3 separate regions of the Homo sapiens genome follow, and regions 2 and 3 are each linked to region 1. The links come from fine-mapping of genetic effects on gene expression. A gene starts in region 1. Each other region holds a variant in brackets. All regions are shown on one strand. Distances are from middle to middle. Region 1 holds the start of MET (MET proto-oncogene, receptor tyrosine kinase). Region 2 overlaps MET (MET proto-oncogene, receptor tyrosine kinase). Region 3 overlaps LOC124901731 (a long non-coding RNA gene).

The links. PIP is the estimated chance that this variant, and not a neighbour inherited with it, causes the effect.
Region 2: its variant is the best candidate, but not a certain one, in a credible set for the expression of MET in spinal cord (GTEx, PIP 0.89).
Region 3: its variant is the best candidate, but not a certain one, in a credible set for the expression of MET in unexposed skin (GTEx, PIP 0.80).

What each region holds. Positions count from the first base shown.
Region 1 is chr7:116,670,747-116,673,509 of GRCh38, forward strand. MET (MET proto-oncogene, receptor tyrosine kinase) reads left to right here and starts at 1,450. Exons shown (of 21, transcript NM_000245.4): 1 at 1,450-1,831. The region is part of intron 1 of COMETT (cytosolic oncogenic antisense to MET transcript); the gene reads right to left. RefSeq lists silencers at 1,058-1,107, 1,238-1,367, 1,428-1,617.
Region 2 is chr7:116,763,926-116,766,688 of GRCh38, forward strand. The region is part of intron 11 of MET (MET proto-oncogene, receptor tyrosine kinase); the gene reads left to right. Among named protein-coding and RNA genes, the nearest start is that of COMETT, 77 kb to the left of the region's middle. RefSeq lists a silencer at 185-673. The variant T/C (reference allele first, on the strand shown) is at 1,408.
Region 3 is chr7:116,842,726-116,845,488 of GRCh38, forward strand. LOC124901731 (a long non-coding RNA gene) reads left to right here. Exons shown (of 3, transcript XR_007060489.1): 3 at 1-2,763. Among named protein-coding and RNA genes, the nearest start is that of CAPZA2, 18 kb to the right of the region's middle. The variant C/T (reference allele first, on the strand shown) is at 1,332.

The sequences.
Region 1 (2,763 bases):
TAGGCCCAGTGCCTTATTACCAGTAAATTAGTGTTTTTTAATGAGCTATAGTCATTGATAAATTATGCCATGCCGTATCAGGAAATCTCCAGTCAGGCCGCGTTGTTTATTTAGCCTGCTGAGGCCTCTTGGTATGGTGTGAAGGACACCTGACTGGGCTGAAAGCTAAGTTCTAACTTTGCCCCTCTTACTAACCAGCTATGTGACTCTCCTGGGAACTTTTAGGGACTCAGTTTCTTTACCTGCAAAATGGTTCAATGCAAGACTTTAGTAACGTAATGGGAACTTTCCTTTTCCATAAAACTGGGGAATCAAGAGGTAATCTCTTTTGAGGACTGAAATCACTCTTATGTAACCTCTGGTTACATTATCATTTCCAAGTGCCTGGCACTTGGGAAATGATAACTATTCTTACTACATTTTTCTATGTTTCATTCTGTAGTAAATAAGAACTGAACCTGCATAGTAACTGTTATTTTAACCCATGACTTTCAATAACGAAGATATCTATGTCTCATTATCTATTGCCATGATTGAACAAGTTGGTATGAGAGCCGGAACGAACTCAAGTTCTAACCGGCAATGCCCGTTCCTTAGATCCTATTACCTTTGAGTGTTCATTTACTCTTGTAGGTGCCAATTTTTATAGCGAAATACAAAGTTATCCCAACACAATTACTCCTAATAGAGTTCACCGAGGCCCCAAAAGCTCTTTTTTAAAAATCATCATAAGATTTCAACATTCAAGAATTAAACTTTTGTTCTGTTGTGCTTATTCATCGCTATTTGCCCAGTTATTTAATCAGCCTGCTTCCGGCTATGGAAAAAAAAAAAAAGAAAAAAAGAAATGGAAGTCTCCTCAGGGTTAAACTCCTCTGTTGTTCTTCCTTGCAGAAATTTGAGTTATTATAGTAGAGGATAATCGTTGCATAATGAAATCATTGGGACAATTCGTCCATCCACTTCTACCTCCGCCTCTAACAATGAACTCCTTGTTTCTGCGGTGCCCAAATCTCTCTAAACCCGGGTGGGCGCGGGGCGGTTAGCGGAGACGTGGGAGAGGCCGAGAGCAAAGCTCGCGCCCTTCCCGGGGTCAGCGAGCGGGGTGCCAGGAGGGTGCGCGCCCTGCATCTGAGCCCGGGGTGACACTCGCCTCCCAAGCGCCAGGAGGGGGAGACTCGGTCCCGCTTATCTCCGGCTGTGCTAACTTCAGACTGCCTGAGCTGGGGGAGGAGAGCGCGCAGCCAGGGCGAGAAAACTTCTCCACCTAGAAAGTTTCACCTTGTCGTGGGCGGGGCAGAGGCGGGAGGAAACGCGACCCCCGCGGGGCCAGGCGCGGCGCGGACGGCAGGAAGGGCGGGGGCCGATTTCCCTCTGGGTGGTGCCAGTCCCCACCTCAGCGGTCCTCGGAACCCGCGGACTAGGGGACGGACAGCACGCGAGGCAGACAGACACGTGCTGGGGCGGGCAGGCGAGCGCCTCAGTCTGGTCGCCTGGCGGTGCCTCCGGCCCCAACGCGCCCGGGCCGCCGCGGGCCGCGCGCGCCGATGCCCGGCTGAGTCACTGGCAGGGCAGCGCGCGTGTGGGAAGGGGCGGAGGGAGTGCGGCCGGCGGGCGGGCGGGGCGCTGGGCTCAGCCCGGCCGCAGGTGACCCGGAGGCCCTCGCCGCCCGCGGCGCCCCGAGCGCTTTGTGAGCAGATGCGGAGCCGAGTGGAGGGCGCGAGCCAGATGCGGGGCGACAGCTGACTTGCTGAGAGGAGGCGGGGAGGCGCGGAGCGCGCGTGTGGTCCTTGCGCCGCTGACTTCTCCACTGGTTCCTGGGCACCGAAAGGTAAAATTGCAGCCCCTTTCAGATCCAGTACCCAATCCCTCGCCTCAGGGGTTCTGCTTTCTTTGTTCCCCTAAGAGACCTGACTGCTGTTCCAGGGGGCAAAACCACGTAGGTGGGCTAGAGTTTAGGGGCTTCGGAAACTGAAGAGACGTGGCCACGGCGAGGACGAAACTAGAATGGGGCTTGTCTTTTTAGGGGGTTGCTTCTGATGGCCACCTGTATGACTTAGGAGGGAGAGGGGCGCTGGGACAGTGGGTGATGTGTGACTGTTACGGCCCAGCAAGTTTTAAAGCTGGGATCTGACTCAGCCCTTACAAAAGGGATCCGGTCATCCTCGTCCCACCGTGATGCAGCTGGCAAGGTTTGAGCCGAGCTGTTTCCTTGTTCCCAGCCTTGCTTTATCTGTGTTATGTTGGGGTCCTTCCAAGGGGCAGGTGTTTCTGTGAAAGTCTGAATTCATTTCTGGCAATCACGCGGGGCTTGTGATCCATCAATTTTCCATCGTACCTTATCTCTTTCTGGGGCTTGTGGTGGACATCTATCTTATTAGGTGAAATAGATTATAACCAGAGGCTGAGCGATGTGGCCAGTCGTAGTGCTGACCCGATAATTAAAGCACCAGTGAAAGTACTTTCCCTGACTATTGTCAATGCAGAATTTACTCCGAAGTACGGTTTCCCATTCATATCTTTCATGTTTTAAAAGAGCCATTTGCTAATTTGGCAGTTGGAGAGGGCTCCAATGGCTCACGCATGAATAGTTGCCCAGTGTATTTTACCTTATCACAGTTTTATGTTCAAAGGAGCCCTCGGGCAGAATGAAATATTGTCAACTCTCTTAGGCAAAATAATCAAGATACTTTAATTGCTATGTTAAGATGGTCCATGAATGTGAGAGGATTGTAAGAACTGACGTTGGAGGCAATATAGACT
Region 2 (2,763 bases), 93 kb after region 1:
AATAATAACACAGGCAAAATGCTCAAGACTTGAATTATTCATAGCTCCAGTCACTAGAAACAGCAAAATATTTATCCTTCAACATGTTGTTAAAACATTTAGAATTTTTTTTCCTGAAAGATGATCTGAATGCAAATATGAACAAACATAAAGCAATAGGATAGTCTTTATTTGGTTGTAATATAGGCTTTCATGGGTCATCTCCATCTAAGTAATAATATGTTTCCATTGAAATTTTTCTGACTTTTTCAACAAAAATTTAACTGCAGCCCAACTTATGCATATGTTCACGTTCATACAAGTTTACTAACCTCATTATTGTGTTTTGTACAATAATTAAGCAAGCCCAGCATAAAATTGAATGGAAGCCCGCTTCAATGAACAGTGTGTTTACAAAAGCAAAGTTCTTTCATCTGCTTCTTTAATTAGTTTTAGAAAGGGAGAAATAAGCTTTTATCACTTCTTTTTTTTTAATAAAACTAATCTAGTGTGACCTTTTGCTTTCAACAATTACTGTGTTTGCCATTTGAAAGATTCCATTTGGTTTTTCTTGATGATAACAAAGGTTTATGTGCAAATAGTTTTACACTCACAGAAACTCTATTTTTCTGTTCCTGTATCTATGATGAAGGGATTAGAGATAAACGGTTCTTTATCTACCCTTCCAAGCACAGTCTTTATGGAAGAGAAAACTTCTCTTTCCATAAATTAAATACCCATTATTCAACATCCTACAAAATTGTTGGACCAAGAAAAACATAATTTGGCATCATCCTCGGCCTGTCAATGGTATTCCCAACATGGCGAAAGGGTCTTCTAGAGACTGGCAAAAAACACTTTATTTTCTTGCCTATATATGGAATAACTCTTTCTCTAACAAGTGTATAGCACCTGCCACGTGACAGAATAGTAATCTAGTGGGAGCAGTGGCAATTCAGGGAGATTATTTTAGTATCATGGTTCAATATTTTTTCATACTTCATTTTTCTTATGTATGAGAGGAAAGCAAAGGCATAAGAGAATATTTGTTGTGTCAGCAATCTAACTCTTTATCAATACGTTAAGTTGATCACATTAAAACTTCTACCTCTCAGCCAGGCACGGTAGCTCATACCTGTAATCCCAGCACTTTGGGAGGCCAAGGCGGGTGAATCACTTGAGATCAGGAGTTCAAGACCAGCCTGGCCAAAATGGTGAAACCCCATCTCCACTAAAAATACAAAAATTAGCTGGGCATGGTGGTGGGTGCCTGTAATCCCAGCTACTCAGGAGGCTGAGGGACGGAGGTGACCTGAGTCCTGAAGGCGGAGGTTGCAGTGAGCCAAGATGGCACCACTGCACTCCAGCCTGGGAGACAGAGCAAAAAAAAAAAAAAAAAAAAAACCACGTACTTCATCAATGAAAGTG[T/C]TCTGGAGAGAATCATGTGTTTAGAATGAGATATGCTCTTTATTGCCAGGAAGATTTCATGCTCCTCATGCAGCCATGCATGCAAGAGTTCCTAGGGTGAAAAGAGATTGTGATCATTCCCTGCCCTAGTTGTGAGAGTCCCTCAATTCATAGTAAGCCCAGTGACTACACCATGGGCAAAAGGGCGAGCCAGGTTTGGATGAGGGAACACAATAGGGGTCAAGCATAAGTCACCCCTCAGAATGAATCCTAAGCCCCATGGATGGAGAAGGAAGTTTTTGGCCAAGGCTTCAAGTCCCCCAAGAGCAGTCGTAGACAGTGGTCATCAAAAGTAGGTACCTCTTTGTGGGTATACATGACTCCCCAAATGCCTCTATCAACAACAGCTCATGTTTGTATGGAATTTTACAGTTGACACTGTACTTTGGCATATTTTATTTCATTTGAGTCTCATGTGGACCCATGAGGTTGGGAGGTCAGTGATGATTATCCCCATTTATAGATAGGTAAACAAAGGTTTAGGAAGATTAGCTGATTTGTCTTGGGTCACCCAGGAAGCAAAGAGCAGAACTGGGGCTCACACTCAGGCTTCTTGATTCCAAATTTGGTCTTCTGTCACTGCATACACTAAATTACAGTATTTCTTATATTAACTCTCATTTAATGTATACTAAAATACCATTATAGAGACACTTTTCTATCATATGCTATTTATATATCTATGCAGTTCTTTAGAGGGAATAGCTCTTAACTTTTTATAAATATCTAAAAATTTATTCTGTTTAAAGAAACTCTGTATTTCTCCCTGAGTGTCTTATTTCTGACTTTTTATGCATGAGCATATCTTATGAAAAGTAGAAAAGTATTCTGTTTCATGCTGGAACAAGGACTGCCTGACATTGCCTTGGGGGTTTATCTTATTCTGCAGCATATAGGAACATATGAGAATAAAGATGCTTCAAATGTTCAATCTGGAGAAGTCAGGTCAAACAGGAAAAAGAAGCACAGGAAGATGAGCCAGGGCAGGGAGCGGGGACTTGGTCTATGACACTGTCATCACAGGAACAAATGCTGAGAGCTCAGGAGGAGGTGAAGCATCAGTGTGTGGGCATTGGAAGGATCAAAAAGGAAGCATGGTTTTGAACCATCCTAATCCACCTGCTGCCCAGAGCCAGCCAGATGTTGTCCTTCTCCCTTTGAATAATTTATGTGCAACTCTACCCCTCAATCTCAGTCAAAACCACCATGAACTCAGTTCTGAGTCCAGACAGGATAAAAGTGAAGGGTTCTTTTTTCAGAGGTTATTTGGCCCAGTGTCGAAACCTGTTCTTATTAATGGTGCTCAACGCTTACTCT
Region 3 (2,763 bases), 170 kb after region 1:
GTGGTTTATGCCTGTAATCCCAACACCTTGGGAGGCTGAGGCAGGAGGATGGTTTGAGCCCAGGAGTTCAAGACCAGGCAGGGCAGCATATGAAAAAATGTCTTACATGTTGACAGAAATGTGTTTGGTAGAAGTCAAGCAAAATGAGGCATAAGAAAGCATCATTGAATGATGATAAAAATGAGGTCCGAAGTGATCTTATTGCATGTTTTGGTCCATGTAAACTGAATCCTACCCATTTCTCCAACATGTAACACTCCTATAACTAGTCACCTTTCCACTTATACAGTAAGCTATTCAGGAAAGTGACTTGGATCTGTTAGAGTGGAATCCAGAATGTGACCCATTTCTTCCCTTTGCATTTCTTTCCCTCTTTCTGCCTCCTATCCCCATCATTTGTCTGGCTCATTTCATCCATCAGGCCTCAGCTCAACTGGCACTCCTCAAAAAGACTTTCTGTGGCTACTCTCAGGGTCCCCTCTAGTTACCTGTTTATTTCTCCTACAGTACTTTTAGAGCAAACCCTTCTTAAAAATAAACTCTAAAATATAACTGAGGGCTCTTTTTTTCAGATGCTTGACTAGCAATTCATGTTACTCATCATCTTGCTTCCAATGTTCCACCACATCTGTTCCTGCCTCTTGGATTTGGGTACAGACACCTTTCCCAGGGCTTGGAAGTGGCTTTCTAAGATTTACATTGATCAACCTAGGGTTAAAACCCTTTCAGGCTGCTGGCACTTCTGCTTGCGCTAGTGTGAGGGCTTATCTCACCACTGAAATGCTGGTTCTCCTGCAGTTGCACTTGGTGGGTCCAGTTTCCCTTTTCTGTAAGCCACAGAGGGTGGGGAAAAGAGCTCTGCCTTTTCCTGTTTCTATTCACTCTTCTTTCCCCTCTACTCCGTCAGTGTGCCACACCCCAGGCTCCTAGCCTTCTCCAACCCAGCCAAAGGAAGCCTCAGAAGACCGTTCTCATCTCCCAGTAGGCTCTGGACACTCACAAATACAATTCTGAATTAGCAGTCAAAAATACGCATATAAGTTTTGTTTACATAGAATCTCAGCTCTCTCAAAATCCCCTGTTTACCTCACAACTGGATTTTACATGTATCAACAAGCACAGCAAAATGCAAGATAATTTTTATGAAATGTAAACCTCTCTGTGACTTCTAAGGGGAGAAACGTAGTCTTTTGTTCCCATCTCAGATCCGCCAGAGTTGCCTACTTAGTTTGAATACAAATTTGAGTTACAATAAATTATCCTGAGCCATTCCAGGCTAACCACTATTTCGGTTTCCAGATCAGTCCCCATTAAACATCAAAATTGCAAGA[C/T]ACGTCACCTCAGTGGAGCCACTGCCTTGATTTGCAATGTTTGATCTGGCACCAATACAGGTTTCTTGACTTCTTAATATACTCTTTCTTATTTTTTCACTAAAATTAACAAAAATGAATTTAGTATTTTGCTTAAGTAGGAAATTGAAACATTCCAAGCGTTACGCATCTTAAATTATGTAAGTATGCAAGTATTTTTTTTCTGCTTTCTTTCATACGCATTACCACCTCTGCAGGAGAAGTAAAAGTGAAACCCAGCCAGGCGAGGTGGCTCACTCCTGTAATCCCAGCACTTTGGGAGGCTGAGGTGGGCACATCATGAGGTCAGGAGATCGAGACCATCCTGGCTAACACTTTGAAACCCGGCTCTAATAAAATTACAAAAAAATTAACCGGGCATGGTGGCGGGCGCCTGTAGTCCCAGCTACTCGCGAGGCTGTGGCAGGAGAATGGCGAGAACCCAGGAGGCGGAGCTTGCAGTGAGCCGAGATCGTGCCACCGCACTCCAGCCTGGGTGACAGAGACAGACTCCATCTTTAAAAAAAAAAAAAAAAAAGTGAAACCCAAGAATCCTCTAGCTGTAGGAAAGGAATGGCTAGAGCCAAGAGAAAATTAAACTTGACTAAAATGTGTCATATAATTTCTTATATTTCATTGGGCTATCATCCTTCCCTCCCATGAGCACTGGATTTATTTAGGAGGCTTATCATCTTACAAGTTACTTTAATACAATTGTTCCAGAAAACAGAAGAATTATTAGACTTGTATTTTGAAAAATAAGCCTCAAACTCAGCAATAAGAACCCAAATACCGCAACAATTAAAAAACGAGCCAAAGGCCAGATGCAGTAGCTCATGCCTGTGATCCCAGCCTTTAAGAGGGAGGACTGCTTGAGACCTGGAGTTTGAGGTCAGCCTGGGAAACATAGCGAGACCCCATCTCTACAAAAAATAAAAAATTAGTCTAATGTGGTAGCACATGCCTGTAGTCCTAGCTACTCAGGAGGCTTAGGCAGGAGGATCATTTGAGCCCAGGAGTTTAAGGCTCCAGTGAACTATGATTGTGCCACTTGCACTCTAGCCTGGGCGACAGAGTGAGACCTCACCTCTTAAAAAATAAAGAACCAAAGACCTTAAAAGACACATCACCAAAGAAGACATACAGATGACAAATAAGCATATGAAAAGGTGCTCCATATCATATGAGAAATGCAAGTTAAAACAACGAGAATCCAGAACACTGACAACATCAAATACTGGTGAGGATGTAGAGCTACAGGAACTCTTACTCATTGCTGGTAGGAATGCGAATTGGTACAGCCACTTTGGAAGACAGTTTGCCAGTTTCTTATAAAATTAAACATATTGTTACCATGTGATCCAGTAACCACACTCCTTGATATTTACTCAAAGAAGCTGAAAACATGCCTACA